Regions from separate parts of the Homo sapiens genome. Here region 1 is linked to region 2. Evidence: fine-mapped expression QTL. Tissue or cell type: sigmoid colon. Region 2 holds a variant in brackets; the other region holds the start of a gene. All regions are shown on one strand. Distances are from middle to middle.

Region 1 (4,323 bases), 240 kb before region 2:
TCCTTCCTGATCTGACTCCTCCCACCCCCATCCACAAACCCACCATGAAACCCCAGATGCTTCACCACAGCCCATTCAACCATTCAACTCCCCTTCTACCTGGCCTGAGTCTTGTTTGGTCAACTCTCTATCCCCAAGCTCTGGAGATTCTTCTCCATGCTATGTTGCTATAAAAAGGAAAACACAGGCCAAGTAAATTGGGTGGATCTACCCCTCGCTCTGTCCCCAAGACTCTGCTCAGTGGTCCAAATGAATGGTTTATCACTCCACAGATGGGCAAGGCAAAACAACAGACTAAGACACTGTCCTTGGGCAGCTCTTAGCTTCGGCACACCCATGATGACTGAACACAATAGAAAATTAGGTCCCAAATAGGCCCATGGTTTAGAAGAAAATCACACTTAGGTCATTTTTAGCAACAGCAACTCCATGAACCAGGGGCCTTGCAGCAAACAGATGAATGAGGCATGATGAAGTGATACCATCATCCTAAAGACTCTATGGGAGACCCTTCTGATACTCTCATTTATAATAGCTTCAGAAGGGAGCCCTGGCAGAGCCAGGGAAGAGCCAGGACACCTCCCAGCCTATCACTGCCTAATTCCCTTCCCCAAACAGCTCATCCAGGAAGGTGAGGATGTAGTTCCCAGAGGCTCCAGGACCCCAAATCACACCTGGAACAGCAGGATGGCTCTCATGGACCTGACAATAAAAGGAATTGCCAGTGATATAAAAGGCTGAACCCAAAGTCAGAGACTCCCCCACTTTCCAACCCCAATAAGCCTCTCAGAACCAGGGGGCCACAACAGTAGCTACAGATTCTATCTCAGAAGAGAAAGAAAGCAAGTAACAAATAACAAAGCAGCTCTTAAGAAAGGCTTCACTGTAAGACCTCTCTGAGCCATCATCCCCATTCTGAGTCCCCAGGATAGTCTGGACCCCCTCAGGAGCCCCTGGTATGAGGGCCAATTAGAGTCAGAGGTCAGGCCTTGCTAGTCCCCATTTAGGGATCAACTCTGTAAAGGGAAGCCTGTCCAGCCTTACACCACCAGGGCTTCGAGGGCTCCTTAGAAAACACAGTCTGAGTGCCCTCAGCTGAGCTCCAGCCTATCTCCCCAGCCCCCACAGCAATGATGTCCACAGGCAGCCAGGCCTTCCCCAGCAGCCCTCCAGGGCCATCCCAGATTAGGGCCACTTACCCGGCTGTACACGTGCCTCTTGCTCTGTGCCATGTTGCTCACCCGGCCTCTACCCCCTCCCCCAGCTGGCCAAAGACAGAGAGAAAAGGTAGAAACCTAGGCAGGAGGGTCAGGGCGCTGGGCCCTCATAGAGGGACACAGGAGTCGTCAGGCACAGCCCTCCCCAGTCCATGGGCCTCACTCGGTGGCCTACACGGGTAGGGGTGGGGGCAGTGATGGGGGCTGAGGAGCAAGTCCCCTCTGCTGCCTGAGGATTCCTGAACCCAGAGACACAGAATCCTGCTTGCCAGCTGATGAGTCTCACTCTGCGCTAGTGCTGCTCTAGACTTGTCAGGAACCGTGCTAGCCTCTGGGTCCTAGTGCCCCCCTGCTTCACGTGGGCCAGAAACTAAGGGCTGGGCATACGCCACAGACCCTCAGCACTCAACTCTTGAATACACTGTCCTAGGGCTGGAAGCAGTCTTGACACGTCCTCCTAGTCTGTACCCACTCACCATCACTGTTCCCCTCTCCCCCAGGATGTAAGGCCTCAGCAGGCCCATAAGCATCAAGTGACACTTCAAAGCGATCAGCTGCCTAGAGCCTCCACACAGCCAAAATAAGGGTCTCTCATCTACCTTTCTGGTGCTCTTCTCTCTCCCTCCCCTCTCTAAACTCTGGACTCAGGGTCCAAATTCATGTGAGTAGGGCCTGGATTTCAATCTCACACTGAGCCAGAGGAGGCAGGCCCTGCCCAGGAGGCAGCAAGAGAAGGGCAGTAATGAAGGCAACTTCACACACATAGCAAAGCAAGCCAAGTACCCTAGCCCCCTCCCACAAGGCTGGCAAAGGTTGCCATAGTCACCCTTCACCCTTTATGGTTGTTATAAGGGGCCAGGTTGTAAAACACAAGAGTATCAGACTCAACTGGATTACTAAAGGCAGTAGTCAAAAGCAGAGAGCCCTTCTTTCTTCTTGTAGCACAAGGCCCAGTCCACCTCAGTCATCTGCCCCTTGTACTCTTGGCCTTGCCTCCTAGCATCTCAGACCCAATGAAATGGTTTATTTTCTACGCTTTTGTATTTCACAAAAATTCTTCAGTAACCATGTATTACTTTTATAATTAGAATTGTTTAATTTAATGAGATTATGCATTCTAATGAGAGGTCTCCAAGGGACTATGTTACCACACTGCTTTCATTCACTGGCCCATCTATCATGGGCTAGAAACCAAAAGACCAGGGTCCCTGCCCCTACACAGCCAACAAGGTTGGCCTGGGGTCTGACCTATGGCTCCACTGAGTATGGTATGGATCTAGTTCCCTTGGGCCTAGGGACGCCTGTCTTTTCTGCACTGGGCTTACTTCACTGGCAGAACAGTGACTTTACCCCGCTCTACCCTCTTAAGATAGGCCAGGTAGCCCAACAGGAGAATGACAGCCAACATTCAGAAATATGGCCCCAAAACACAATTCCAAATCTTCAGTCCTGGCCAGACCCCCTAGGAAATAATCTCTCTCCTCCCTGCAAAATCTCCATGTCGCCCCCTCCTTTCCCTATTCGCCATTACACAGGTGGGCAGGGCCAGGCACATCCTTGCAGCCTGGACCTCACATGTTCGGAGCACTTTACAGTCTATAGGACACCTTAAAAAAAGACATTTTATAGAACCATGGTTGAGTACTGGTTCTAGACTCAGGCTACTTTCCTGGCTTTATCACTTGGTAGCTACATAAACTTGGTCTAGTTACTTAACATCTCTATGCCTCAATTTCCTCATCCGTCATAGGGAAGTAACAAAGAACATATCTCAGAGAGGTATCGTGAGGATTAGCTGAGATAATCCAAACAAAGCATCCAGGACACCGCCTGGTATTTAATAAGTGCTAAATAAAAGTTAGCTAAGAACAATGTCATCATATATAGACATTACAATAACCCCATTGAGAGGTTGGCCAGGGATGATGCTGACAAGGCAACTGAGTCTTTGAGAACTGAGCAACTTCCCTGAAGACACACAGACTGTGAGGAGTAGAGCCAAAACTGGAAACAACCTGACCCAGAGCCCTCTGTGCTTTCTACTACCCCTCACCATTACCACAGACATATCTAGGCTTCCAAGGCCCTGCTCTTCCTGTAGGCCACACTGCCTTAAAAAATTCAAAAGAGCTCAGATCTAAAAATAGCCTCACAACTCACTAACCACATAGGTATCAATAGTCCCCTAATTTCTTGGAATCTGTTTATTTTCCTATGAAATGAAAATAATATCTGCCATATCTACGTCAGTATCATGAGGTTCAAAAAAGCTAAAGCATATACAGGTACCTTGTAGGCCAGGTGTGGTGGCTCATGCCTGTAATCCCAACACTTTGAGAGGCTGAGGCCGGTGGCTCACTTGAGACCAGGAGTTCAAGACCAGCCTGGCTGACATGGTGAAACCCTATCTCTACTAAAAATACAAAAATGAGCTGGGTGTGGTGGCGCATACCTATAATCCTAGCTACTTGAGAGACTATAGGCATGAGAATCGCTTGAAGCCGGGAGGTGAAGGTTGCAGTGAGCCAAGGTCGCACCACTGCACTCCAGCCAGGGCGACAGACTGAGACTCAAAAAAAAAAAAAAAAAAGCACCTTGTAAAAAGTACAGAAATTATAGAACTGCAAAGAATTACCTGACATGATACTAAATGGTATATACATCTACACAATAAATATAAGAAATTATAGACAGGAGAGAGGTGAGCTAGAAAGAAAGGGAGTACCTAAGCATGCCTTGAATTATGGGAATTTTAAAAAATATGTGGAGGCCGGGCGCGGTGGCTCACGCCTGTAATCCCAGCACTTTGGGAGGCCGAGGCGGGTGGATCATGAGGTCAGGAGATCGAGACCATCCTGGCTAACAAGGTGAAACCCTGTCTCTACTAAAAATACAAAAAAAAATTAGCCGGGCGCGGTGGCGGGCGCCTGTAGTCCCAGCTACTCGGGAGGCTGAGGCAGGAGAATGGCGTGAACCCGGGAAGCGGAGCTTGCAGTGAGCCGAGATTGCGCCACTGCAGTCCGCAGTCCCGCCTGGGCGACAGAGCGAGACTCCGTCTCAAAAAAAAAAAAATAAATAAATAAAATAAAAATAAAAAATATGTGGA
Region 2 (4,397 bases):
GGGAGGCTGAGGTGGGTGGATCACTTGAGGTCAGGAGTTCGAGACCAGCCTGGCCAACATGGTGAAACCCCACATCTACTAAAAAAAAAAAAAAAAATACAAAAATGAGCCGGGTGTGGTGGTGCACACCTGTAATCCCAGCTACTCGGGAGACTGAGGCATAAGAATCACTTAGACCTGGGAGGCAGAGGATGCAGTGAGCTGAGATCATGCCACTGCACTCCAGCCTGGGCCACACAGTGGGACTCCATCTCAAAATTAAAAAAAAAGACAATATAAAAAATTCAATAAATTTTTATATTGATTACATACTGAAATGATATTTTGGATATGTCAGGACAAATAAAATATTAAAATTTGTTTTGCCTGTTTATTTTTTATTTTATTTTTTGAGACAGAGTTTTGCTCTTGTTGCCCAGGCTGGAGTGCAGTGGCACGATCTTGGCTCACTGCAACCCCGCCTCCCGAGTTCAAGCGATTATCCTGCCTCAGCCTCCTGAGTAGCTGGGATTATAGGTGGCTGCCACCATGCCTGGCTTTTTTTGTATTTTTAGTAGAGACGGGGTTTCGCCATGTTGGGCAGGCTGGTCTCAAATTCCTGACAGGTGATCTGCCCGCCTTGGCCTCCCAAAGTGTTGGGATTACAGGCGTGAGCCACCGCGCCCGGCCATTGCCTGCTTTTTTTTTTTTTTTTTTTTCTATTTTTAAAGGTGGCTAATAGAAAAATTTGTATTATATGTGTGGCTCACATTACATATCTAGTAAATGGTGCTGATTTAAAGGATATAATTCAAGGAAGAGAGAGGGTAACTGATCACAGAGAAATGGTCTGATATGCAAGAAGGAAGGGTAAGCAAATAAATTGGTAAATATATGAGTAAAATGAAATAAATATTAGCTGTATAAAACAATAGCAGTAATGTCTAATTTGGGGGTAAAATACAGGGGCAAAAATATGCACGATGAGAGGGAGATGATCGGAGTTAAAGCATTCTAAGGTATTGTTTAGTGAAGGGTAGAGATACCAATTAATTTAGGGCAACCCCTAAAAGAAAATAAATAGATTATACACTTTAAAAAAAAATAGAGTGGAAAAAAAAAAAACAAACCCAAAATCAGATAGTAAATGGGAGAAGCAAGCAAAGAAAAGGCAGGACAAATAGTAAACACCAAGTAAGATAATCAGAATAATCTTAATAATAATAAGGTCAGTAATTACAATAAATACAAACTTACTTCCTAAAATATACCAGCTAAAAAACAAATTATTGGACTAGATTGAAAAATTCCACTGTATGTCATCTCTAATATGCATACCTAAAAACAGTAATAATTGAGAGTAAAATAATGTTTAAGGGCTGGGTGCAGTGGCTCACGCCTGTAATCCCAGCACTATGGGAGGCCGAGGTGGACAGACTGCTTGAGCTCAAGAGTTCAAGACCAGCCTGTGCAACATAGTGAAACCCCGTCTCTAAAAAAAATATAAAAATTAGCCAGGCATGGTGACCCGTGCCTGTAGTTCCAGCTACTTGGGACTTGAGGTGGGAGAATGGCTTGAGCCCAGGAGGTGGAGGTTACAGTAAGCTGAGATTGTGCCACTGTACTCTAGACTGAGTAACAGAGCCAGACTCTGTCTATAAAAAAAAAAAAAAAGAGAGAGAGAGAGTTTGAGGCATTGAGACATACCCTCAGACATTTAAATTTTATCAGGTGGGCTCCACGCACTGATATATTTTAAAACTTCCTCAGGCAAATCTAATGTGCAGCTAAGGTTGAAACTGGTTTAACTTATGTTTTATTTAATTAAACTAATTAATTTTTTTTGAGACAGGGTCTCGCTCTGTCACCCAGGCTGGAGTACAGTGGCGTGATCATGATTCACTGCAGCCTCAAACTCCCAGGCTCAAGCGATTCTCTCTCCTT[A/G]GCCTCTGGAGTAGCTGGGACTACAGGCATGAACCACCACACCTGGCTAATTTTTAAAATTTTAGTAGAGACAAGGTCTTGCTATGTTGCCCAGGCTGGTCTCGAACTCATGCGCTCAAGCGATCCTCCCAACTTGCCTCCCGAAGTGTTGGGATTATAGGCGTGAGCCACCACACCTGGCCTACAATATACTGTTAATTAAAAAAAATTAGATAATGGAATCAGCAGGCATAGTATTATCTCATTTATGTAAAATTTAAGTCTTTTCTCTGTGTATCATCTATCTATAGAGTTGTCTTGAAATAGGCTGACACTCATATCATTGTTGGAGGGATTGGTCACAAAGGCATAAGCAGGCTAGTGCTAGATCAGCATAAGCCAGCATTAAAGTAAAGGTGAAGAGGATTTCAGAGGCTGTAAAGCTGTGGCACATTCTAGTTGGTTATCAGAAAGTCAAGTTAGAGAAATAAGGGATAAAAAATTGGTAATAATTGGGTAAACTCCAGGAATCAGTAGACATATATTATTGACCTAGAACACTTGAGTATGGCTAATATTTGTTGGACATCATGTAAATGCCTTGGCTTGACAAAATCTTCAAGAATTCTATTTCTGGGCTTTCATACATGAACTTTTTTGGGTTATCTTATAGATAGATAATATGGCCCTAGGCAGTTAGGATAACTTAGATTGATGTTTCATTGGAGGTCAGGTCAAGAAACCAGAATGCAGTTTAGGGAGGGGATTAAAAATATTTAAAAAGAAAATCAGAATTCCCTTTATAAAAAATCAAATCTTACAAAGACTCCCTATATATAAATTGGTATTTTATCAGCATAAATGTATTTTTAATATTTATGTGTTTTGAATACATACATTCATAGGGTTTGAAATTCAAAAGGATATGTAATTCTATCATTTTTCTTCCCTAAATAGAAGTGATGGCAATACTTTTCTGTATCTTGCTTTTGTTGATTATTGTATTTGAGCAATCATTTCACATCATTATAGAGTATTCCATTAATGGATGAACCGTGATTTTATGTAACCAATCCCCTATTTACAGACATTCAGTTTGTTTCCAATCTTTTGTTACTGCAAACAGTGCTAAAATGAATAATCTTGTACTTAAGTTATTTTTGTACATGTGTAAATATATATGTAGGATAAGGTCCTAGAAGTGAATTTGCTACTTTAAAAGATATGTAAATTGTGATACTGTCACCAAATTGCCCTCTATAATGTCGATTTATACACTGACAAATGGCATATAAGCATGCTTATTTCTTCAAATTCTCATGAAAATGTGTCACAGAAAATTTTTGCCAATCATATAGGTGGAAAGTGACATCTCTGCATATTTGGGTTTCTCTTACTATGAATGAGGTTGATGTATTTTCATGTCTCAATGTCATTTATATTTTCTTTTCTGAAAACTGACTGTGTATATCCATCCTCATTTTCTACTGAGTTATTGAATGTTTTTTTCTTACTGAGTTGTAGGAGTTTTCTATGTATGTAGAAAATTAACTCTACATGATATGAGAAGCAAATATTTTTCCTCATAGCTATTTATCTTTAGAATTTGCATGTGTGTTCTTTTCCAAGCATACATTTTCTGTTTTTATATATTATTAATCTTTTATTTTTAGATTTTTTGGTTTTATATTATGCTTAGAAAAGCCATTCCTATTATTTTCTCCCCATGGTCTGTGTATTAATTATTAATTTATTGCCTCTCAACTCCAAATTCATCCTTCAGTACATGCTCTGTGATAAATTCCTTTAAGCATTTCTCTTTTACAGTGAGCACAATGTTAAGTTTTCTTAGTAAAGGGCACTGGAGGGACATAAAGAGGCTCTCCTATTGTTACATGCAGCATACTGTGGGTCAGCTGTGGGGTATAGGGACACCTAATGGTGACCCATCCATGCATTCAGAATTCATAGTCTTTCAGTGACTTCATAGCCCTGCCTGGCCTAGTAATCGCCTTTCTGCAGCCCTTTCAACATGGACACCATATGATTCAGGCCTCCTGCCTGTACTAATGCCTAATTCCCTTTGCTTACTTGTTCCTCCCCGTGAGAAGTTTGTCTCCTGTGGCCATCTCAATGCTACTGCTCTTCCAACATGGAGAATACGTATTCTGGGCATCCTGCCTACACTCTCTCTGCATGCCTGTAAGCCCAGCCACCACTGTAGCTCACCTATCACTGGAGAGTAGCTTCCTGCTTTCCCAGGAACTGCAGACCAACTTTAGCCTTGACAAACTAGTGAACTCTGCCATCCAGTGGGTTACAAATACACATTCTGCAATTTGGTGTGAACCCCAGCCTCGGGAAGGGAGTCCCCCTTTCAAGTTTGACTTTCCTTAGGATCTCTCCCTTAGCCCTAGGGTACCATATAAATTCCCTTATATCTTATAGGTAATCTATTATCATAGTTTAATATGTTAAGCTATATTTCAGTTTTT

Direction of the effects. Alleles are on the strand shown, and positions count from the first base shown. SD is a standard deviation of normalised expression in the study named.
With allele G in place of A in region 2, the expression in sigmoid colon of the gene that starts at base 1,506 in region 1 is lower (moderate effect, 0.74 SD a copy in GTEx).

What was found. PIP is the estimated chance that this variant, and not a neighbour inherited with it, causes the effect. A credible set is the group of variants that fine-mapping cannot tell apart.
Region 1: it holds the start of DCTN1, and the variant in region 2 is the best candidate, but not a certain one, in a credible set for the expression of DCTN1 in sigmoid colon (GTEx, PIP 0.55).

Annotation. Positions count from the first base shown.
Region 1 is chr2:74,378,806-74,383,128 of GRCh38, forward strand. It overlaps DCTN1 (dynactin subunit 1), which reads right to left and starts at 1,506. Exons shown (of 32, transcript NM_004082.5): 1 at 1,200-1,506. The coding sequence starts at 1,232. RefSeq lists an enhancer at 1,307-1,818.
Region 2 is chr2:74,621,866-74,626,262 of GRCh38, forward strand. All of the region lies in intron 2 of M1AP (meiosis 1 associated protein), which reads right to left. Among named protein-coding and RNA genes, the nearest start is that of M1AP, 24 kb to the right of the region's middle. The variant A/G (reference allele first, on the strand shown) is at 1,924.